Linked DNA regions of Homo sapiens: region 1 is linked to region 2. The links come from fine-mapping of genetic effects on gene expression. A gene starts in region 2. The other region holds a variant in brackets. All regions are shown on one strand. Distances are from middle to middle. Region 1 holds the start of APC2 (APC regulator of Wnt signaling pathway 2). Region 2 holds the start of REEP6 (receptor accessory protein 6).

Region 1 (10,872 bases), 43 kb after region 2:
CCAACTGACCAGTCGACCGACAGACGATGGGTCGGCCTCTCCTTCCCAGCCCCCAGGACACATCCTGACAGCCGGACAAACACACAGACAGCTGGGACAGCCTAACCCAGCAAGCCGACTGGCCAGCCCAGCACCCCCAGGCTCACAGCCAGAGAGGGCGACAGACAGACAGACAGGACCCTCCCCCATAAAAGCAAGCCTGCCCAGAGGCTGACAGCCAGACACGCGGGGCGGACAGACCACCAGCTGTCCCTGCCGATGGACAATGAAAACACCACGAAGGCCAGTGGGTGACACCTAAGCTGTGCAGAAACGGCAGGACAGATGGACCCAAGCCCACCGCCATCACCGCAGCAGCCCCACGACCCTCCATCGGTGGCTGAGCTCAGGGTGGCTACCTGTGTGGCCCGCACCCCCTGCGCAGCCTTCAGCTGGTCCCTGCTGGCCCCGGCAGCCCCTGCCCCATCCCTTGACTCTGCCAGCGCGCTGGCTTCTTTGTGCCTCTGGCCGTCTTCTGGCTCTGGCCTGGCCTCCTCCCTCTGTCCAGCTGGCCGGCGCCTCCTCCCTCGGCTCGGCCCTCCCGCCGGAGCCCCCCTTCACGCCCCCCTTCCCTCTTTGTTCCTTTCCCATCAGCGCTCGCCTCCTCCCTCCGCCTTTGTCTCAGACGCACCAATGGCAGCCCATCCCTCTGCCACCTCCCCCTGCCAGCCTGAGCCCCTTCCTCACACCGGCCCTGTCCAGCCCACCTGCTCCTCCCCTCCCTCCTCCACCTGGCCACACACATGTATTCACCCGTCATTTGTTCTCTGACCCCCAGGTGCCCCCTCATCCCCTCCCCTCCCACCCAAATGTCACCAGGGGCACGGCTGGGACAGGAGTAGGGGTGGGGGCTCAGTCGCAGGTGGGAGGATGGAGTCGGGCTGTCCCGTCCTGCTCAGGGGACGCAGTGTGTGGCTTGCCATGTCATCCGGCTCCTTCTTGGTCTGTCCTGAGTCTCAGGGACCACCATTTGGCTGTTCCCAGAGGGAGAAACGAGGCCCTAGGAACCGAGGTCTGGCACCCAGATGCTGCCCCAGAGGGGCTGGGAAGTCCAGGCTGGAGGCCCGACAAGACCCGCCCCTCTCTGGCTTTGGGTTGCCCCTCTGAGGAACCTGCAGGGCAGGAGTGCCCAAGGGCAGGGTGGGAGGGGCACAGGGACTGGAAGTCAGGTGGCAGAGGCTGGCACCTCCCACCCTGATCCGATGATGTCCAAGGCTGTTCAGGTCTCCAGTGGGGATCAGGCTTGGGGTTGGGGGCTACACGCAGGGAGACCCTGGGGTCTGGCTCGAGCCCCATGTTCCAGCTGAGGTCACCATCCCATGCCCAGCCAGGTGGAAGGACCAGATGACGTGCAAAGCAACACATGTCTGCCTCCTGCTCCCCAAACCCAGGCCTCCCCCACGTGGTTCTTCTCAGCTGACCGAAGCCAAGCCTCAGACACCTTCCCTCTCCCCACATTCGGTGGTCATTTCTGCATCCTCATCAGACTAAGCTAGTCCCTCCAAGCTCTGCCCAGCGGGATCATGCCTCCCCCAGCTCCTGACACCCCTCTGTGAGGACATTCTGATCAGCCTCTTCCTGGCCTCCCACAGTCCCCCATGCACAGCCAGAGGGAGCTTTAAACGTCACAAGTGAGATCCCATTTCTCCCATGCTCAAACACCTTCCATGGCTCCCCAGTGCCCTCAGGATACGCTCCGACTCCTCCATGTACACCGCGACTCACTTAGAGGCTGGAGGCTCTCTTCTCTCAGGCCTTTGCACGTGCAGTTGCCCTGCCTAGAGCACCTTTTCTAAGTCCTGCCATCCCACACAGTGCAGCTTCTTCCACGAAGCTCTTCTGCCTACTTTCACCCCCAGGTTGCATCGTGTAGCCTCCTGGGGGCCTTCCTGAGCGATCACTCCCTGAAGGCACCATGACTGGGGGCTGGTCTTATTGAGCGGGCTGCATTTCAGGGGAGGGAGGCACAGGTATGGGAAGCCAGGCCCAAAGGGGCCTTTCTCCTTCCTTTAATCCAAACCCCCTCTTTCCAGAGAGGGAAACTGACACCCAGAGAGGTGCAGCAACACCCCCGAAGACACACCACTGGCCTGCCCATCCCTTCCTCCGATCACCTCAGGGAGGTCCGGATGGTGAAGCCCGTGAGTGGGTGTGTGCGCAGGACCGGCTGCAGAAACGCTGACGCCCAGCTCACCGGGACTCAGTTTCCCCTCCAGCTCCCACTCTGGGGAAATGGAGGGTCCAGAGTCTGTGCTGACGGGCAATGCTGAGAGCCAGGGATGGAAACCTCGACGCGAGGCGGAGGTCGCGCCCCTGCCCTCCTCCCCGAGGACACACACCCGCTTACGTGCAGCTGGGCTGGCGGGGCGCCTGGGTCTGGGGCCTCCTCCCTCTGCGCGGCTCCGCGGGCCCCACCGGAAATCCCGGCCCGGGGTGGCCTCGGAGCGCGCGGGCTCCGGGGTCTCCGCGGCGCGGGCAGGGGCTCCGGGGCGGACAAAGCCCGGTCCGGGCCTGGGCAGGCGGCGCTGCCGCTCCTAGCGCTGGGCGAGACCACCGCGAGCGGGGGAGGATGCGGGATGAGGGATGCGGGTGAGACAGCCAATGAGGGCGCGGGAAGACGGGCTGGTGCCATGGCAACAGCCAATGGCGGCCCGGGGCGGGGACCGGCGTCGGCCGCGGGGCGTCGGGCCTCCGCGCGGGCTCAGGGGCCGTGAGTGCGGGGGGCGAAACCCCCCCGAGGGAAGGGGGTGCCCCGAGGACCAAGATTCCTGTGTCCCGCACTTTATTGCAGGGTGCAACGGCCTCTTAAAACCTCCTGCGTCTGGATTTGCAGAATTGGAGAGTAAAACATCAAATCCTGGATGTTACATCAGCATCTTGGCGGGGGAGGGGTTTCCAGGGCAGTGGCCGGGCTGGGGCCAGGCCTGCACCCACCCCACAGGTCCAGCCTGGCCTGGTGCAGGTGCGTCAGGGTGGGACAGGGTTCGGGTCCAGGCTGGAGCTCCCTGAGGGTCCTGCCTGGTGGGGAGGGGAGAGGGGAGGAGGGGCAGGGCCACTGGGGAGCACCTGGGACGCTGCATCTCCCCACATTTCTCCCTGTCTCCCCAACGGAGCGTCAGATCCTCCTGTAACTCCGTTGCTCTTCATGTCCCTCTCTCTTTCTGTCTCCCCCTCTGTTCTCTGTCTCTCAATCTCTGTCTCCATGTGTCTCTGCCCCTGGTGGGTGGCACACTTAATTCACCCTCACGGACCGAAGGCCAGAGGAGGGAAGGGCCAGGGGTCCCAGGAGTCGCCATCTCCAGGTGTCCTGGATGCTCCATGAGTCCCTGGAAGCCATTTGAAGGTTTAACACACAGAGCCCGTCCCTGCAGCTCGGAGCAGCCCTTCCTGCTCTGGACACAGACTCACAGCACAGAAAGGGAGGCGACTGGGGCCAGAAGAGTGATTTTT[TTC/C]CGTGCTGGGCAGGCAGGGCAAATCATTCGCCGCTCAACCCTCGGTTTCCTCCTCTGTAAAATGGAGAGGAGGCGGAAGATTCTGCAAGGGCTGGTGCAGGGAATGATAGGAGAGGGTGGGAAGGTCCGAGTATTCAAGGCCCCGTAGACAAAGGCAAGGGAGGACCCGTGCTGTTTCCTGTTGGGCCTTGAGCTGAAGACCCGAGGGCCTTGTCCCGGGCCAGCACTGCCAGGGGCTGAGAGCCCTTCGGCCTGGCTGTCTGGGAGCCCCCAGAGCTGGACGCAGCTGTCCCCACTGGTTGGGTCTGGGGAGGCAATGCAGTGGGCAGACACAGGGGATCTTTTCTTTTTTCTTTTTCTTTTTTTTCTTTTTTTTTTTTTTGAGACGGAGTCTTGCTCTGTAGCCCAGGCTGGAGTGCAGTGGCACGTTCTCGGCTCACTGCAAGCTCCGCCTCCCAGGTTCACGCCATTCTCCTGCCTCAGCCTCCCGAGTAGCTGGGACTACAGGCGCCCGCCACCACGCCCAGGCTAATTTTTTGTATTTTTTAGTAGAGACGGGATTTCACGTTAGCCAGGATGGTCTCGATCTCCTGACCTCGTGATCCACCCGCCTCGGCCTCCCAAAGTGCTGGGATTACAGGCGTGAACCACCACGCCCGGCCTTTTTTTTTTTTTTTTTTTAGATGGGGTCTTGCTCTGTCCCCCAGGCTGCAGTGCAGTGGCGCCATCTCGGCTCACCGCAACCTCCGCCTCCTGGGTTCAAGTGATTCTCCTGCCTCAGACTCCTCAGTAACTGGGATTACAGGCATGTACCACCTTGCCAGCTAATTTTTGTATTTTTAATAGAGAGGGGGTTTCACCGTGTTGGTCGGGCTGGTCTCAAACTCCTGACCTCATGATCCGCCCGCCTCGAAGGGGATTTTTTTCTGGAGGCTGGAAGGCTGCCCTGAGAAGTGAACAGCAGTGATCAGGAGGAGAGGCGTTCCAGGCTGAGGGAAGATCAATGCATGCTTGGGACACAGGGGGTGTCTGGTGGAGCCATGGGGTAGGGCGCGTGGTGGGGTTTGACAGGTCAAGCCGGGGCAGAGCTGGGCGAGGCTGAAATGGGGTTGGGGATGCAGAGCCCAGGGCCCTGGCTTCAGCTCAGCCTTGTTGTCCCTGTGTCCCCCTGGGCATGTCTCTCTCTGGCCTCGGTTTCCAGTCTTGTTTACTGAAGGGTGGGTTGGATGATCCCTGCCTCCCCCAAAGAGGAACTAAGTCCCACCTCCCTGTGTAGTTTCAGATGTCTCAGCTCCCCAGGCCCCCATCAGGCAGGGGTTTGGGGGATCCAAGGTCAGTCCTGTCCTTGTATACATGGGGAAACTGAGGCCTGGGCCAGGGAACGTGTTGCCTGAGTTCACCTGTGCCAGCCAGGCCTCCGGAGTGACACTGAACCTCCCTTCTTATCCCTCTGGGGGTGGCCAGGGCCTGGAGGGCTGAGGGTACATGGGGGCTGAGACCCCAAGACAAGATGCCCTTGGCCCCAAATCTACAAAACATTATGTCCCTGAACAATCCCCCCCCACACACTAAAATCCTCGACCCTGTAAATCCTTGAACCACAGCCACACTCAGACATCACCAGACATTTCAGAGCCTCAAGAACCCCCCACAGCCCCCTAGGACTTCAGGAGACTGAGAGAGGTCTCCCCCTTCTCCCACTGCAGAACGCAGGGCCTAGCCCAAGACCCCGACCTAGGCTCCTCCCTGGGGTCCTCCACGCCCCCTACTGCTGCTGGGCTAAAGGGGAAGTTCCATGAAATGCTCACTCCCCCACCCCTGTCCTGTGACACCTCCCCGCAAGTCCGCAGCCTGGCACACGGCTCACTCTTGGAGTGTCTTTGAGCCTTCTGAGTCTGACCTCGAGCTGTCCCCGCCCCCTTGATGCCTCCTCTGTGCCAGGGGCTAGAGGCAGAAACAGGGGCGGCCCCCATCGGGAGCTGGGTGGGGACAGAGAAGGCACCAGGTCATCGCGGGAGGATAGAGACGGCCCGCCGCCGGCTGGGTGGCCGGGCAGAGCCCTGACCGGTGAGGAGGCCACCGGAGGTGGGGGAGGGTGGGGTAGGCCGGTCCAGGCCGCGCCCTGAAGCCTGACCGCCGCTATGGGCCTCAGTTTCCCCGGCGGCGAGTCGGCAGACGTGCGCCTCCGTCAGCACCGCGGACAGCTCCCCGGCCCCCGCCCCGCGTTCTCTTGCGGGCGCCTTAGCTCCGCAACGAGGCTCCGGCCTCGAAGCGTGACCTTGGGCTCCCCGCTGCACCCCCCAGCCTCAGTTTCCCCTCCAATGAGGGATGTCACAGCCGCGAAATTCAGACGATTCCGGAGGCTGGAGAAGCGCTGGGGTCGGGAGCGGACGGATACGAACAGCAGCGGCGGCGAACGTCAAAGCAGGCCATACGCTCGCGCCCAGAAGGGGAAACTGAGGCCCAAAGAAGCGCAGGGCGTGGCCCAGGCCCCCACCCTGCGCAGGGCCGAGCCTCCGCAGGATGCCCCCGCAGCCGCCCCCGCCGCCCCAGCTGGCGCAGCCTCCGCGTCGGCGCAGTGAGGAGGGGTCCGAGGGTCTCCTGCAGAGGCCGAGGGCTGGGCTGGGCGAGCCCTGCGCTTGCGCAGACCCGGGGCTGGGGGTCGCAGCGGCGCACGAGAGGGGCTTCCATCCCCGCCAGCCTTCCGAGGCGGTTTCCCGGCAACGGTCTCTACGGCGACGGCACTAGACCCCCGACTCTGCAGCCTCCGCGCGCTCGCCCCATGCGCCCCCCGCCGCCGCGCCCGCTGTTCCCGCGGTGTGGACCCCGCCCCGTTCCTGCGCGGCCCGGAGCCCTCCCCAACGGCTCGACCCACGCGCCCTACCTGGTCCCCGAAGAAGGCCGAGTGCAGCAGGCTCAGGAGCCCCAGGAGCCCCATGGAGCCGCGGCCGCCCCGGACCCGCCGCGCCCCGCCCCTCGGCGGCCAGGGTGGGGGTGCGGGACGCGAACGGGGCCGCCCTGCGCCTGCGCGGAGAGGGGCGGGAGGGGTCAGTCCGCGGGCCCGGGGCGGGGCTCCTCCCGAAAGGGGCGAGGGCGTACCGTGGGGTCTGGGGGTGCTCGCGGGGGCTGGGGAGTCTCGCGGGACCGAGGCTGCGGAGGGGCGGTGGGAGATCCAAGGATGGGAGAGAGGGGAGGGGACTCGCGTGGGCCGAGCGGCGCCAGGGTCCGGGTCCGACCACGCTGGGGAGTTCGAATGCGGAGGAGGCTGGGGGGGCCCGAGGCGGCGGGGAGGAGGCCGGGTGGGGGTGGGGGCACGAGAGGTCCCACGGGGAATGGGGGTCGCGGGGGGCCAGAGGCGGCGTCGCCATGCGGCTGTGGTCCGCTGCCCGCGGACGGTCACCCTGCGGAAGCTCGGAACCACCCCCGAATCAGCCCGGCTTGGCGCGCTGAGGTTCATTAGTCATTCAGCAAACATCACCTGCGCGCACAAGGCTTGCTGGGCGCCGAGCTGGGCGCGCGGGGGGCCGCCGTAAGGGGGCGACACCGAACGCGGACATTCATGCAACAAGCATTTATAAAGCACCTACTGTGTGCTGGGTCCCCCTGCACTGAACAAAACAAAATCCAGGCCCTTGGGAAGCTGACGTGAACGAGGGGACTGCAGCGGGCTGGGAGAGACGCCAGCGCGGCGGGCAGGGCATGGGGAGCTGCTGGGGAGGCCGAACAGCCCTGGGGAGTGTTGGGGGAGAGTGCAGCCCGCGAGGGCAGTGAGGGCTGGGAGGCCCCGGGGGGCAGGTCGCGCAGGCCCAGCGGGAGGTGGGAGCCACCGCGGGCTGTGGACAGAGCAGGGCCGCGCCCGGCTCCAGGCTCGCGGGCGCCCGCTGGCGGCTGCGGGGAGAACAGGCCGTGGGCGGTGCCGGGAGAGGAGGGCGGAGGCGGCTGCGCGGGTCGAGGGCCGGATGATCGGGCGGAAGATGCGGCCCGGGCAGGATGGGGGCTAAGAGGGGTGTTATGAATTGTGCAAAGTCCCTGGAAACCAAAGAACGAGCGGCCGGAGAAAGGGGCGCCGCTTTAGCAGGGCGGCGGGGACAGGCCGCCTCCAGCAGGTGCCTCAGCTGAACCCTGGAGCGGGGACGGAGCCGTGCGGCTGCCGGGGAGGCTTCGGGGCCACCCAGGACTCCTCCTTCAGAAGTCAGGGGAGGGCGCCGAGTTCAGTGTAAACTGCCGTCCAGGGGGGAGGCCGCGGGGATGTGAGAAGCGCCGGGAACCAGGACAGGGCCTGAAGGCAGCTGACCCGCAAGCGCCGGGGCCAGACCTGAACCTGATGAGGACGGAGCTGTCTGTCTGAGACGGCACAGATGGGGCCGGGCAGGTCTGGGAGAGTCCATGCAGATTCTGGAGCGGGGTGTGGGACCAGAGGGTAGAAACAGAAGCGTGGGGCCGGGCACGGTGGCTCCCGCCTGTAATCCCAGCATTTTGGGAGGCCGAAGCGGGTGGATCACTTGAGGTCAGGAGTTCGAGACCAGCCTGGCCAACATGGCAAAACCCCGTCTATACTAAAAATACAAAAAATTAACCGGCGTCTTGGCGCATGCCTGTAGTCTCAGCTAGTCGGGAGGCTGAGCAGAATCGCTTGAACCCAGGAGGCGGAGGTTGCAATGAGCTGAGATTCTGCCAGTGCACTCCAGCCTGGGCGGCAGAGCTAGACTCCGTCTCAGAAAAAAAAAAAAAAAAAAAAAAAAGAAGTGCGGATATGGCCAGAGAGGCCTAAAGACAGAGCCTGGGCCTTGAGTTGGGAGTGGCCCTCGACAGTGGCACCCTAGTGCTAGTTAGAGGCTCCCACCCCACCTCCTGGACACCCCCCAAATTCTTGTGGACCTAGGGCACCACCTGGCCACCAAGACATGTGTCTCTCTGAACTGGGGGTATCTTTTTGCTTTAAATACTAATACATATTTTCCCTGATCACACATGCTGGATTCCAACTGCAGAAAACCAAGGGAAGTACCCATTAGCAGCCACGTGCTAGCCAGCAGGGGCGTGTGCAGGGAGGGCTTTTATGGACAGGAAACTTCCCGTAAAGGTCCAGACAGTAAATTTTCAGCGTCTGCCTGGCAGAAGTAATACAGGTATGAATGGGCACAGCTGGGTGCCAGTAAAGCTCTGCAAAAGCGAAGTGAGGCCCAGCACCCATTCCTATTATGCTTTCCTCAGGGAGGGCCCCCTGGGGCTTGTTCCCAGCTAGCTGCCTCATGATGGGCGCGGCCCCACACATCTCTGTGTCATTTGCTCTGCAGATAGACCTGGTAGCTCAAAAGCTCTGTCATTTCCATTTATTTATTTTTTTCTTTTTTTGAGACGGAGTCTCGCTCTGTCCCCCAGGCTGGAGTGCAGTGGCGCGATCTCGGCTCACTGCAAGCTCCGCCTCCCGGGTTCACGCCATTCTCCCGCCTCAGCCTCTCCAGTAGCTGGGACTACAGGCGCCCGCCACCACGCCCAGCTGATTTTTTGTGTGTGTTTTTAGTAGAGATGGGGTTTCACCATGTTAGCCAGGATGGTCTTGATCTCCTGGCCTCGTGATCCGCCCGCCTCGGCCTCCCAAAGTGCTGGGATTACAGGCGTGAGCCACCGCGCCCGGCTCCATTTGTTTTTTTTAGACGGGGCCTCGGTAAAGACTTCAAGTGTGCACCATGGTTTCCGGCACTTTTGATTTCTAAGGCTCAGGGTTGAAAACCATGTTGCAGATAAAGCTGTTTCAGTGGGACATCCACTAATTTCCCACTTTGCTTATCTGAGGCGAAAAGCACCTAACACCTCAGCAATTTCTTTTTTTTTTTTTTTTTTTTTTGAGGCGGAGTCTCCGTCGCCCAGGCTGGAGCACAGCACTTTCAGAGGCCGAGGAAGGCGGATCACCTGAGGTTGGGAATTGGAGACCAGCCTGGCCAACATGGTGAAATCCTGTCTCGACTAAAAATACAAAAATTAACCAGGCGTGGTGGCGTGCTTCTGTAATCCCAGCTACTCGGGAGGCTGAGGCAGGAGAATTGCTTTAACCTGGGAGGTGGAGGCTGCAGTGAGCCGAGATCGTGCCACTCAACTCCAACCTGGGCGACAGAGCGAGACTCTGTCTCAAAAAATAAAAAGAATTCTGAATGCTGACAACCGAGACTACAATGAACCCTGCCTACACATGCCTTCCCTCCCTCTCCTTGAGCTGGACCTGGGGTGGGCCTTCGAAGCTGGGTCCCGTACAAGCTTCTGCTGTTCACGCTGAAGTGAACCTGGCCAGTGCTGCCCAGAGACCTCCGGCGGCCACCTAGCAGCCAGACTGTAGCAGGATGAGCCACAGACAAAACTCCTGACACTGGATTAAAGAAGAGGTTTTTATTCGGCCGGCAGCATCAGCAGACTCGCGTCTTAAGCTCCCCGAAAAAGAGATTCTTGGCCTTTTTAAAGGCTTACAACTTTAAGGGGTCCACGTGAAAGGGTCGTGATACATCAAGCAAGTGTGGAAAACGTGAGTGGGGGCTGCATGCATCAGCTAACACAACAGAAAGTTTTACAATGCTTTTTCGTAGTGTCTGGAATTTACAGATAACACAAGTAGTTTAGGTCAGTGGTTGATGTTATTATTACTTTTTTTTTAACTCCTAGGGCCGGGTGGTGGTGCCAAGGTTGTCTGTTTATCTTACTTTTGCATTTTTTTTCCAACTTTTTGCATTTTCTCTCCTCCTGTCTTGTGAACTAGGCAAGGTGGTGGGAGGAAGGCAGCAGGAGTAGTAGTGGTCTCCTTCCTTAAGACCACACTCCAAACTTTGGACCGTTGGTTTCAAGCCCGGTGGGTTCAGGTCAACCCACAGGCGAATTTTCAAACATTCTACACATCTCAGGGGCTGCCAGCCAAGACTTGCCCCCACTTCTGACTACCCAGCCAGGTCCAGGCCCTCAGTGGCCTCCCCGGTCTCCTTACTTCCTGGCAGGGTTGGCCAGGGCGCCCGGTGCAGTGGAGGGCTTGAGGCACGACCACGTGCAGCACCGTCCCACTGGCTACGGGCCCCTCTGGACACCAGCCAGGCAGGTCCAGTCCCACCGACTCATGCTGCCTGGGGGTCTCCCGGCTGTACTGGAGCCAAGCTTATAACCCTGGGCCATCCTTCCTCTGTCCAACCCACCTTTTCCCAAACAGAGAGAAAAACACGGACCCACACTTTCTCTGTAATGTAACTTAATTCCAAATCGAGAGGTAAGAACACGAGCAAATCATGGTTTTTTTTTTTTTTTTTTTTTGAGGCAGAGTCTAGCTCTTGTTGCCCGGGCTAGAGTGCGATTTCCGCCTCCTGGGTTCAAGTGACTCTCCTGCTTCAGCCTCTCAAGTAGCTGA
Region 2 (12,117 bases):
CAGGCCTGGGTCTCCACCGTCAGACACACTTTAGGGGTGGGCCCTGTGCCATCAGACATATTATTGGAATAAGCCTGGGTCTCCACCATCAGACACCCTTTAAGTGAGCCCTCCACCATCAGACATCCTATTTGAGCAGGCTTGGGTCTCCACCATCAGACACCCTTCAGGGTGGGCCCTCCACCATCAGACATCCTGTAGGGTGAGCCCTCCACCATCGGACATCCTATTGGAGCAGGCTTGGGTCTCCACCATCAGACACCCTTCAGGGTGGGCCCTCCACCATCAGCCCCCGGACAGGGCTCGTTTCCCCAGGGAAGGGACTGAGTCTTCCCCTCACATCCCCCATCTCCTGGTATCCTCCGGACTTTCTGGCCCCAGCGCCTCCCAGGAATCCCCAAGCCCCATGCGCTCCACGGCTGTGCCCGCCCTGGCAGGGCCCACCTTGCCCACGTAGTAGAAAGGGAACCAGGACAGGAGTAGATCGCTGAAGAACTCGGCCAGCCCAAACAGGGCGTACACCACCCAGTAGGTGAGCCACACAGTGTCGTCGTCCTTGCTTGGGCTCTCGATAGCTTTGATTCTGCAGGGAGGGTGCAGCAGGGTCAGGGGCTGCCAGGGAGCCCCCAGAACCCCCCGCGTGGGCAGCCAGCCGTGCACTCACGAGGCATATGCGGGGTACACAAATCCGATGAGATTGCACAGCAGAGACGCTCCGTAGCCGAACAGCAGATACAGGCTTAGCAGAGTGACGGCTCCTGCCGGAGAGAGGCGGTGGTGTGCCAGGGCTGGGGACCCGCTGAGCCCCCACGACGGTACCCAGGCCGCCTTTCAGTCGACGAAGACTGCAACCGTCACCTCCTCCCAGGAGCCGCCTCCAGGATATGTCCACTGCCCCTGATGTGCCTGTACATCCCCCATCGTGCCTCTAGGCCCTGAGCCTTGTGCCTGTAACTGGTCAACGTGTCCATGTCCCCCACCGGGGTTGAGAGCTCCCCAAGGGCAGGCAGGAGCTCGACGCTGGGCAGTGGGGGTGGGTGCGGAATAGCTGCCCAGTGAAGTGTTTGCAGCCGGGCGCGGTGGCTCACACCTGTAACCCCAGCACTTTGGGAGGCCGAGGCAGGTGGATCACGAGGTCAGGAGATGGAGACCATCCTGGCTAACACGGTGAAACCCCATCTCTACTAAAAATACAAAAGATTAGCCAGGCATGGCGGTGTGTGCCTGTAGTCCCAGCTGCTGGGGAGGCTGAGGCAGGAGAATGGCGTAAACCCAGGAGGCGGAGCTTGCAGTGAGCCAAGATCGCGCCGTTGCACTCCAGCCTGGGTGAGGCTCCGTCTCAAAAAAAAAAAAGTGTAATCTGCAACGATAGCCATCTCATTCCAGGCCCTTTGGGAGGCACTGGGAAAACAGGCCAGTGTTTCAATATAAGGGATGGCAGAAACCTGCAAGGGAGGCCAGGCTGTCATGAAGACTTGATTCTAGAGCTGAGAAAGGCAACTGTTTCATCTGTTATCTTAGCGCAGGGTTTCTCTGCCTTGGCACTGCTGATGTTCAGGGCCGGGTCATTCTTGGTTGTTTTCGGTGGAGAGGGGGAAGTGGCTGTCCTGGACACTGCAGGGTGCTGAGCAGTGTCCCTGGCCTCTGCCCACTCCATGCCATCAGCCCCCAAGTCATGACGACTACAGGTATCTCCAGACATCACCCAGTGTCCCCTGGGGCGGGGTGGGGGGCAGGGCTACCCCCTTTGAGAACCTCCTGTCTTGGAGGCAGCAAACCCCAGCATCTCGATCCCCTGGGTGGAGGAGAGCCCTTTGGTCGGGTGTGCACTCACCAGCCGGCACTGAGTGAGGCTGTGGCTGCATGGAGCCTCAGTTTCCCCCTTGGTAAGTGGGAGTAGTAATGGCCCCTGCCTCCTATGGTTACAAGTTAACAGAGAGAACGCCTTTCTGCACGTTTATTTCTATTTATTTTCGAGATGGAGTCTTGCTCTGTCACCCAGGCTGGAGTGCAGTGGCGCAATCTCAGGTCACTACAAGCTCGCCTCCCAGGCTCAAGTGATTCTCCTGCCTCAACCTCCTGAGTAGCTGAGCGTACCACCATGCCCAGCTGATTTTTGTATTTTTAGTAGAGACGGGGTTTCACCATGTTGGCCAGGCTGGTCTCAAACTCCTGACCTCAGGTGATCCGCCCGCCTTGGCCTCCCAAACTGCTGGGATTACAGGCGTGAGCCACCGCCATCAGCCTTTCTGCACATTTATTAAGTGCCTTCAGGCAACTATAACACAGTCCCAGCAAGGAGGGTGTTCAGAGAAAAACGTGTGTGTGTGTGTGTGTGTGTGTCCAGCTCAGCCCCAATCCTGAACCTGGCTCTGAAAAGAATGACTACGACAGCTGCATTTATTAAGCGCCTATTGTGTGCCAGGTTTTGTGCTTTTCCTGAATTATTCAACAGCCAAAACTGGGGGTGGGTGGGTGTTGCCCAAGGTCACACAGGGAACCTATGTGCTCCAGAGAGCTTGGACAGCCTTCTTCCTCCTCCCCTGGGGCTGCTATCTGCAGAGTGAGATAGAGGCCACTTCTGGACCAAAGGGCAGAGGCCCAAGTCCCCCCAGCCCCTCCCACCTGCTTTAGTCTTTATCCAAAAGCACCCAAGGTCAGGGGTAGGAGGAGTCCCCCAGCTGGTCCCAGGAGTGGCCTCCCAGTCACTGTCCCCTCTGAGTTTCTTCGTATGTTACCCAGGGGTGTGGGATTTGTCAATTTAAAGGAGGTGGGAGATGGGGATGAGGGACTGCCATCTCTCCCCGGGCCTGGCTCGTGGGGAGGAATGACTCTCCCAGGGCGTCCCTCCCCTAAATCCCTTTTCCTGCAGCTTCAGCGACGGGAGGATGACCTTGGACATCAGAACTGTGGAGGGAGGCCCAGCCCCCAAGATTAGCAGCAGATGGGACTGGGGGTGGGCAGGGTGGAGGACTGTATGCTTCAGACAGAACAGGCACAGAGGCAGCCCCTGCCTCCCTGTGCCTCAGTTTCGTCTCTGGTGACACGGTGCCCCAGGCAGCCCCTCCCTGCTGCCTGCCTCCTGGGCGCTCTACGACCTAAATTCCTGCCCACTAGCCCCAGGGATGTGGAAAGGGAGGGCAGAGGTCAGGGACCTGCTCCCGGGGGCAGGCACAGCCGGGCCATGCCCATGCCACCTGCTGCGCTGCACATGGGACCAGGCACCTGGGGACCTCCAGGGTGTGGGCACAGACTTCAGACTGTTCTGGCGCTGCCTGGCATGGGAACCCCCAGATGGTGGGAAAATTGGGGGGGAACTGGACTCCTGGGATCCACCTGCAGAAGGTGCTCAAAAAAGTGGCACTGTCCTCTACCCAGAATACCCCAGGCCCAGAGCAAGTCCTTGTGAGTCATTCTGCGGAGCTTCCTGGAAGAGAAGGCAGAGCCAGTGGGGCTGGGAGCACCACACAAACGGAAGAAAGGCTGGGTGCAGTGGCTTCCACCTGTAATCCCAGAGCTTTGGGAGGCTGAGGCAGGAGGATCGCTTGAGCCCAGAAGTTTAAGACTAGTCTGGGTAACATAGTGAGACCCTGTCTCTTAAAAAAGTTAATTTTAAAAAGTTTTAGGCCAGGCAAGGTGGCTCATGCCTGTAATCCCAGCAGTTTGGGAGGCCGAGGTGGGCAGATCACCTGAGGCCAGGAGTTCAAGACCAGCCTGGCCAACATGGTGAAACCCCGTTTCACCATGTTGAACGGCTAAAAATACAAAAGTTAGCCGGGCATGGTGGTGGGTACCTGTAATCCCAGCTACTTGGTAGACTGAGGCAGGAGAATCGCTTGAACCCAGGAGGTGGAGGTTGCAGTGAGCCAAGATCACACCACTGCACTCCAGCCTGGGCAGCAGAGCAAGACTCGGTCTCAAAAAAAAGTTTTAAAGGTGGGGAGGGAGGCATTTAAGGAGCGTTTACTACATGCTCTTGCTAGAGATTTGGAAAGGGGAAGGGGCGCGCAGCGTCACCAAGGGTGAAAGTCACGGAAGAACTGTAATGGAGTCACAATCGGGGTGCCTGGATCTCCGGCTCTGTGGGCCCCAGTCCAGCCTCCCCACATCACAGCCGTCAGACAACCCAACTCCGTCTTAACAAACATTTACGCTCGGTGGCACTAAGCCATTGAGCTGGGGGAAGGTGAGCTAGGGCAGGAGAGGAGGAGGAAAGGAGAAGGGTCCTGGGCAGGCCCCCAGGACGGTCCGTTCCCCTTCCCGCCAGGAGCCTCCCCTCAGAAAAACGGGAAGATCTCTACTGTTGCAGCCAGGCCGGGGTCCACGGGGGAAGGGGGACGGCGAAACGCGCAGGACACTGGCATCCCGACCCCTCTGGGGCCACTGGGCAACTGGAAGAACCGGACTTCGGCATGGCAGGCACCCAGCGCCCGGAAGGAGGCGTCGGGGGGCGGCCAGGGGCGGAAGCTAGAGAGGGGTGGCCCGGGAGCAGGGTCGCAGGGCGCGGGCAAGGGAAGGGCTGCGGGCGGACCTCGAGGTCCCAGTCACCTCGCGCGCTCCACCGGCCGGACCGGACCCCGTAGCCGGGGAAGGAGTCCGGTCTGCGACCCCCAGGCCCATGGCCTCGGTGTGCCCGTCGGCGAAACGGGCTAGCGCCGACGGCTCACCTGCAGCCAGATACCGCTTCTCCACCCCGGTCTTGGCCTCCAGCGCCCCCAGCACTTCGGTGACCAGGTTCCTTTGCTCCAGGAAGTGCTCCACGCGCTGCCTCAGGCCGTCCATGGCCCCGACGCGCCCGGGGTTGGCTGCTCGAGCTCGCCCGCGGACCAGGGCACCCACCCCGCTGCACGCGCACCGCTTTCCCGCAGCCTGAGCCGCGATGCTCCGGCCCCGCGCCGGTGTCCGCCCCCGGCCCCCCGCTAGGACCAATGGGAGGGCAGGGCGGACAAAGGAGGAGGGGCCTGCCCCGTCTCCCCCGCCGCATAGCCCTCCGCCACGGCCGCCGCTGCCCAGACCCCGCCGGGAGAGGGCGGGGCGCGGCGGCCCAGGGCACCGATTGGCCGGGCCGGAGCGAGACGTAGCTGATTGGAAGGGCGGTGTCAGAGGATGGGATTATTGGCTGAAGGGTGGAGCCAGGGCGAGGAGAGGCGTGGGGGGGCGGAACCGGGGGGAGGGGCTAAAGAAACATCCGAGCCGATTGGAGAAACGGGACGCGATTCATTGGCGAGACCAGTGGAGGGCGGGGCTGATCACAAAGGAGGCAGGGCGGAATGGTAGGGGCGGGAACGGGGCGAGGCTTATCGGAGGAGGCGGGATTACGCAAAAGAATGATTCTGATTAGGCCGGACAGGAGGCCGGGCTGATTCTCGAAGGAGGGGTGTGTTGGAAAGTGGGAGAGGTCAAACAAAGGGTAGGACGCGTTATCGCAACAGTGAACCCGCTTCTCTGGGTTAGTCTTGTCGTTGTACAAATGGGAAAACTGAGGCTCCCGAGGGTGTGGGTCTGCGGAAGACGGGCAGGCGTGCGTCCCTCTCCCGCTTCTGTTAGATCTTCGCGCCCCTCCTGGCTGAGTAGCCGCAAGGCCCCCTGGGAGTCGAAGCCTTCTGCGTTGCTATGGCGCCGGGGGCGGGTCGGACGCCTGGGCCCACTCGGCGGTTTGGCGGGAGGGAGGGGATTTGCGCAGGCCCCGCTCCCGCCCCGCCTCCATGCGGCCCGCCCCGATTGCGCTGTGGCTGCGCCTGGTCTTGGCCCTGGCCCTTGTCCGCCCCCGGGCTGTGGGGTGGGCCCCGGTCCGAGCCCCCATCTATGTCAGCAGCTGGGCCGTCCAGGTGTCCCAGGGTAACCGGGAGGTCGAGCGCCTGGCACGCAAATTCGGCTTCGTCAACCTGGGGCCGGTGGGTGGGACCGGGATAGACGGGAAGTGGGGGCTTGGAGGGGACTGAACAACCCTAGACCCCGACAAGGGGGAGGGAGCCCACAAGGTCTTCTAAATATCAAGAGTCCCAGCCCACCCCTGCCTCAGCCAAGCTCAGCTTCTGGGACTCCCAGAGAGCACCTGCTGGGGAAGGACAAAGAAGGGGGCTGTTACCGGCCCTCGGGGGCTTCAGCAGGGGAGCCGGGTCCCATCGGTGCGGCCGCTTCCCCACATCCCCAGATCTTCCCTGACGGGCAGTACTTTCACCTGCGGCACCGGGGCGTGGTCCAGCAGTCCCTGACCCCGCACTGGGGCCACCGCCTGCACCTGAAGAAAAACCCCAAGGTGAGCCTGGCCTGGAGGCCAACCCCCTGCCCGGGGTCTCAGCTGCCTCCTGGGGCCACCAGCCATCTTCTGTGGTTCTCGTGGTTGTTATGAACAGCTGTGTGCTTTCTGTGGCTCAGACCCGCCCGGGCCCCAAGTCTATACAGCAAGAGGAGGCAGGAAGACCCAGATACGGAAATCATGGCGCCTGCCAGGGCCTGGTACACAGTGGGCACCTCTTGTCCTCCCCCTCCCTCCTCTGGGCCCCAGGGGCTCTGGTAAGGAGGGACAGACGGCGTGACTTCCCCACCGTCTAGGTCATGGGATGGAGGGAAGGGGATTTTACGACACCGTAATGGGTTCCAAAGAGTAGGAGGCTTGGCCCGGCGCGGTGGCTCACGCCTGTAATCCCAGCACTTTGGGAGGCGGAGGCGGTCGGATCACAAGGTCAGGAAATCGAGACGAGATCCTAGCGAACACGGTGAAACCCTGTCTCTACTGAAAATACAAAAAAATTAGCCGGGCATGGTGGCAGGCGCCTGTAGTCCCAGCTATTCAGGAGGCTTAGGCAGGAGAATGGTGTGAACCCGGGAGGCGGAGCTTGCAGTGAGCCGAGATCGCGCCATTGCACTCCAGCCTGGGCGACAGAGCGAGACTCCGTCTCAAAAAAAAAAAAAAAAAAAGTAGGAGGCTTACAGTCACCCAGTGGCCCTCAGGACGCAGTGTCCAGGCGCTCAGAAAGGGGCCTGGGTCCCATCGGGCTGGGCCCTGTCTAGAAAATGCCTGGGATGTCAAGCTGAGGGGTTGGGATGGAGCCTGGGAAGCCCTCGGAGGCCAGGAAGTGCCTTGAACAGGACTGGACAGCTGCCTGCTTACAGCACCGGGAGGGAGAGCAGTGGCCAGTTCCTGATGTGGTTTGCAAGAGAGAAGCCAGGCCTGGCGTGGTGGTTCATGCCTGTAATCCCGGCACTTCGGGAGGCCAAGGCAGGCAGATCACTTAAGCTCAGGAGTTCGAGACCAGCCTGATCAACATGGCGAAACCCCATCTCTACTAAATGTACAAAAATTAGCCGGGCATGGTGGTGTGCGCCTGTAGTCCCAGCTACTTGGGAGGCTGAGGTAGGAGAATCGCTTGAACCCAGGAGGCAGAGGTTGCAGTGAGCCAAGATTGCGCCACTGCACCCCAGCCTGGGCGACAGAACAAGACTCTGTCTCAAAAAAAGAAAAAAAATAAGGAAGTGATGCAGGAGAGAGATAGAAGGATCTAGAACAGGGATGGGGGAGAGAGTGGGGTGGGGACCCGGGGACCTGCAGTCACCCGCGGCAGCAACGACGCGTCTGTGGGCCCAAGGACAGGTGGTCCAAAAGCCTCGACCCCTTCCGACTGCAGACAGAGCCCCAGGCACATGGGGACCCTGGAGAGCAACCCCCACAAACACAGGGTCCCAGGGCACGGGGCTGCCTCACTCCCTGAACCACGAGGGGCCCCAGGGGCGAGCAGGGGACAGGCCTGATGCACCCTCTGCTCTGCAGGTGCAGTGGTTCCAGCAGCAGACGCTGCAGCGGCGGGTGAAACGCTCTGTCGTGGTGCCCACGGACCCCTGGTTCTCCAAGCAGTGGTACATGGTGAGCAGGCAGCCAGGGTGGGTAGACGGGGACGGGGCCGCTGGCGCCCTCAACTCCAGGCCCTCACAGGGTCACAACCCCGCCTCCCCCTGCAGAACAGCGAGGCCCAACCAGACCTGAGCATCCTGCAGGCCTGGAGTCAGGGGCTGTCAGGCCAGGGCATCGTGGTCTCTGTGCTGGACGATGGCATCGAGAAGGACCACCCGGACCTCTGGGCCAACTACGTGAGACCGCGGGTGGCTGTGGGCGAGGGCTGCCCCAGGTGCCGAGGCTGGCACCACCCTAGGGACGCCTCCCGGCCCCCTCATATCCCCACCTGCCCCCAGGACCCCCTGGCCAGCTATGACTTCAATGACTACGACCCGGACCCCCAGCCCCGCTACACCCCCAGCAAAGAGAACCGGTGAGCAGGGCTCCCACAGCACACGGGGGAAGCCCCAGTACCCGGCAGGGGGATGGAGGCCGTGACAGGAGCCCCTCTTGGCCCTGGCACCAGGCACGGGACCCGCTGTGCTGGGGAGGTGGCCGCGATGGCCAACAATGGCTTCTGTGGTGTGGGGGTCGCTTTCAACGCCCGAATCGGAGGTACCCGGGGTCCCCCAGCGGCACCATTCCGGGACAGAGAGGGAAGGGGGTGACTCTGGCGGGGAGCTGGGCCCAAGGACTCGGGAGCCCACCCTCTCACTGCTGGGTGGTGCTAGGGCCCCAGACTCCAGGGCTTGGGGGGTGCTGAGCCAATACGAATGGTCCCACTCCAGGGAGCAGAGAGAGGGCCCAGGTAGGGCTGGGGAGTGGTGTGGAGTGGCGCGGGGCGGGCTGGGGTGTGGGGAAGGGCAGGGCCGGTGGCAGCGGCCCTCCCGCCCTGGCTCTGCAGGCGTACGGATGCTGGACGGTACCATCACCGATGTCATCGAGGCCCAGTCGCTGAGCCTGCAGCCGCAGCACATCCACATTTACAGCGCCAGCTGGGGTCCCGAGGACGACGGCCGCACGGTGGACGGCCCCGGCATCCTCACCCGCGAGGCCTTCCGGCGTGGTGTGACCAAGGTGAGTGGCAGCCCGAGGAGGGCAGGGGTGGCAGGCCAGGCCGACGCCCCCTCCCCGCCCCTCCTGGTTTCCCAGGGCCGCGGCGGGCTGGGCACGCTCTTCATCTGGGCCTCGGGCAACGGCGGCCTGCACTACGACAACTGCAACTGCGACGGCTACACCAACAGCATCCACACGCTTTCCGTGGGCAGCACCACCCAGCAGGGCCGCGTGCCCTGGTACAGCGAAGCCTGCGCCTCCACCCTCACCACCACCTACAGCAGCGGCGTGGCCACCGACCCCCAGATCGTGAGTGCAGCCGCCCCAACAGGGTCCCCTCCCCAGGCCCTGCCATCCCAGCCTGGCCTCCTCCTGTCCCCACCACTGTGACTTAGCACCCTCCCAAAGCTGCTTTGAAAATGCAAATCCAGGCCGAGCACGGTGGCTCACACCTGTAATCCCAGCACTTTGGGAGGCTAAGGCAGGCAGATCACAAGGTCAGGAGATCAAGACCATCCTGGCTAACATGGTGAAACCCTGTCTCTACTAAAACTACAAAAAAAAAAGGCCAGGCACGGTGGCTGACGCCTGTAATCCCAGCACTTTGGGAGGCCGAGGCGGGTGGATCACGAGGTCGGGAGATCGAGACCATCCTGGCTAACAGAGTGAAACCCCGTCTCTACTAAAAATACAAAAAATTAGCCGGGCGTGGTGGTGGGCGCCTGTAGTCCCAGCTACTCGGGAGGCTGAGGCAGGAGAATGGCATGAACCCGGGAGGCAGGGTTTGCAGTGAGCCGAGATCGGGCCACTGCACTCCAGCCTGGGCGACAGAGTGAGACTCCGTCTCAAAAATCAATCAATCAATCAATCAATAACCCAAATCCAGGCCAAGCACAGTGGCTCGCGCCTGTAATCCCAGCACTTTGGGAGACCAAGGTGGGTGGATCACCTGAGGTCAAGAGTTCAGGACCAGCCTAGCCAACATGGCAAAACCCCATCTCTACTAAAAATACAAAAAAAAATTAGCCAGGCATGGTGGCGGGCGCCTGTAATCCCAGCTACTCAGGAGGCTGAGGCAGGAGAATCGCTTGAACCCCAGAGATGGAGGTTGCAGTGAGCCAAGATTGCACCACTGCACTCCAGTTTAGGCCACAGAGCGAGACCCTGTCTCAAAACAAAACAAAACAAAACAAAACAAAAACAAATCCAGCCGGGCGCAACAGCTCACTTTGGGAGGCCAAAGTGGGAGAATCACTTCAGCCCAGGGTTTCTTTTCATTTGTTTGTTTTTGAAGATGGAGTCTGGCTCTGTCGTCCAGGCTGGAGTGCAGTGGCGCGATCTCAGCTCACTGCAAGCTCCGCCTCCCGGGTTCACACCATTCTCCTTCCTCAGCCTCCTGAGTAGCTGGGACTACAGGTGCCCGCCACCATGCCCGGCTAATTTTTTGTATTTTCAGTAGAGACAGGGTTTCACCATGTTAGCCAGGATGATCTCGATCTCCTGACCTCGTGATCCGCCCACCTCGGCCTCCCAAAGTGCTGGGATTACAGGTGTGAGCCACAGTGCCCAGCACTTTCTTTTTTCTTTTGAGATGGAGTCTCGCTCTGTCACCCAGGCTGGGTGCAACAGAGTGAAGTGGCATGATCTCAGCTCACTGCAACCTACGCCTGCCGGGCTCAAGCGATTCTTGTGCCTCAGCCTCTTGAGCAGCTGAGACCACAAGCATGCCACCATGTCCTGCTAATTTCTTTTGTATATTTTGTAGAGATGGCATTTCACCATGTTGGCCAGGCTGGTCTCCAACTCCTCAGGTCAAGCGATCCACCAGCCTCGGCCTCCCAAAGTGCCGGGAATAGCAGGCCACGCCACCATGCCCGGCTAATTTTTTTGTATTTTCAGTAGAGACGGGGTTTCACCATGTTGGCCAGGCTCTTAGTTCTTTTTGAGCATAGTCCTTGTTACTTCTTGAACTCAGTCCTTGGAGTCCTTGGTACCTTTTTTTTTAAATTTTTTTGAGACAGAGTCTCACTCTGTCACCCAGGTTGGAGTGCAGTGGTGCAATCTTAGCTCACTGCAACCTCTACCTCCCAGGCTCAAGCGATCCTCCTGCCTCAGCCTCCTGAGTAGCTGGGATTACAGGTGCACACTACCACACCCAGCTAATTCTTGTATTTTTCCTGTAGAGACGGGGTTTCACCATGTTGCCACAAGCTGGTCTCAAACTCCTGAGCTCAAACAATCTGCCCGCCTCAGCCTCCCAAAGTGTTGGGACTACAGGCGTGAGCCACTGTGTGGCCAGTCCTTGGTACTTTTTGACTTCAGTTCTTGGTACTATTTTTTTATTTTTTTGAGATGGAGTCTTGCCATGTTGCCCAGGCTGGAGTGCAACGGTGTGATCTTGGCTCACTGCAACCTCTGCCTCCTAGGTTCAAGTGATTGTCTTGCCTCAGCCTCCCAAGTAGCTGGGATTACAGGTGCCCCGCCACCATACCCGGGTAATTTTTTTGTATTTTTAGTAGAGACAAGGTGTTGACCAGGCTGGTCTCGAACTCCTGACCTCCGGTGATCCACCCACCTCGGCCTCCCAAAGTGCTGGGATTACAGGTGTGAGCCACCGCACCCAGCCCTTGGTACTTTTTGAATTCAGTCGTTAGTACTTTTTTTTTTTTAATCCAGAGTCTGGCTCTGTTGCCCAGGCTGGAGTGCAGTGGCGTGGGTGTGATCTCCGCTCACTGCAACCTCTGCCTGTCGGGTTCAAGTGATTCTCCTGTGTCAGCCTCCCGAGTAGCTGGAACTACAGGTGCCCGCCACCATGCCTGGCTAATTTTTGTATTTTTGTAGAGTTGGGGTTTCACTATGTTGACCAGGCTGGTCTTGAACTCCTGACCTCAGACAACACGCCCGCCTCAGCCTCCCAAAGTGCTGGGATGACAGGCCTGAGCCACTGCGCCCGCCCAGTCCTTGGTACTTTTTGAAGAAGGGCTGTATTCTCACTGTGCACGGCCCCCCGAGTCCCACCCCCCTCTGCCCTCAGGTCACCACGGACCTGCATCACGGGTGCACAGACCAGCACACGGGCACCTCGGCCTCAGCCCCACTGGCGGCCGGCATGATCGCCCTAGCGCTGGAGGCCAAGTAGGTGACTGCGGGGCCCGGTCCACCGCCCTCGCCCCCAGGCGCGGCCCGGCGGCTCACCCGCCCCCGCCCCCGCCCCCCGCAGCCCGTTC

Evidence for each region. PIP is the estimated chance that this variant, and not a neighbour inherited with it, causes the effect. A credible set is the group of variants that fine-mapping cannot tell apart.
Region 1: its variant is the best candidate, but not a certain one, in a credible set for the expression of REEP6 in cerebral cortex (GTEx, PIP 0.55).

The regions. Positions count from the first base shown.
Region 1 is chr19:1,441,845-1,452,716 of GRCh38, reverse strand. It overlaps APC2 (APC regulator of Wnt signaling pathway 2), which reads right to left and starts at 2,596. Exons shown (of 15, transcript NM_005883.3): 1 at 2,379-2,596. RefSeq lists enhancers at 1-73, 74-707 and silencers at 2,550-2,749, 5,493-5,787, 6,437-6,486, 6,947-7,046, 7,097-7,486. The variant TTC/C (reference allele first, on the strand shown) is at 3,490.
Region 2 is chr19:1,483,935-1,496,051 of GRCh38, reverse strand. REEP6 (receptor accessory protein 6) reads right to left here and starts at 4,871. Exons shown (of 5, transcript NM_138393.4): 1 at 4,668-4,871; 2 at 665-758; 3 at 445-583. The coding sequence starts at 4,782. PCSK4 (proprotein convertase subtilisin/kexin type 4) reads left to right here and starts at 5,702. Exons shown (of 15, transcript NM_017573.5): 1 at 5,702-5,894; 2 at 6,155-6,259; 3 at 7,772-7,864; 4 at 7,960-8,088; 5 at 8,191-8,267; 6 at 8,361-8,449; 7 at 8,739-8,911; 8 at 8,987-9,199; 9 at 11,925-12,025; 10 at 12,111-12,117. The coding sequence starts at 5,706. RefSeq lists silencers at 4,623-4,742, 4,773-5,312, 5,533-5,962.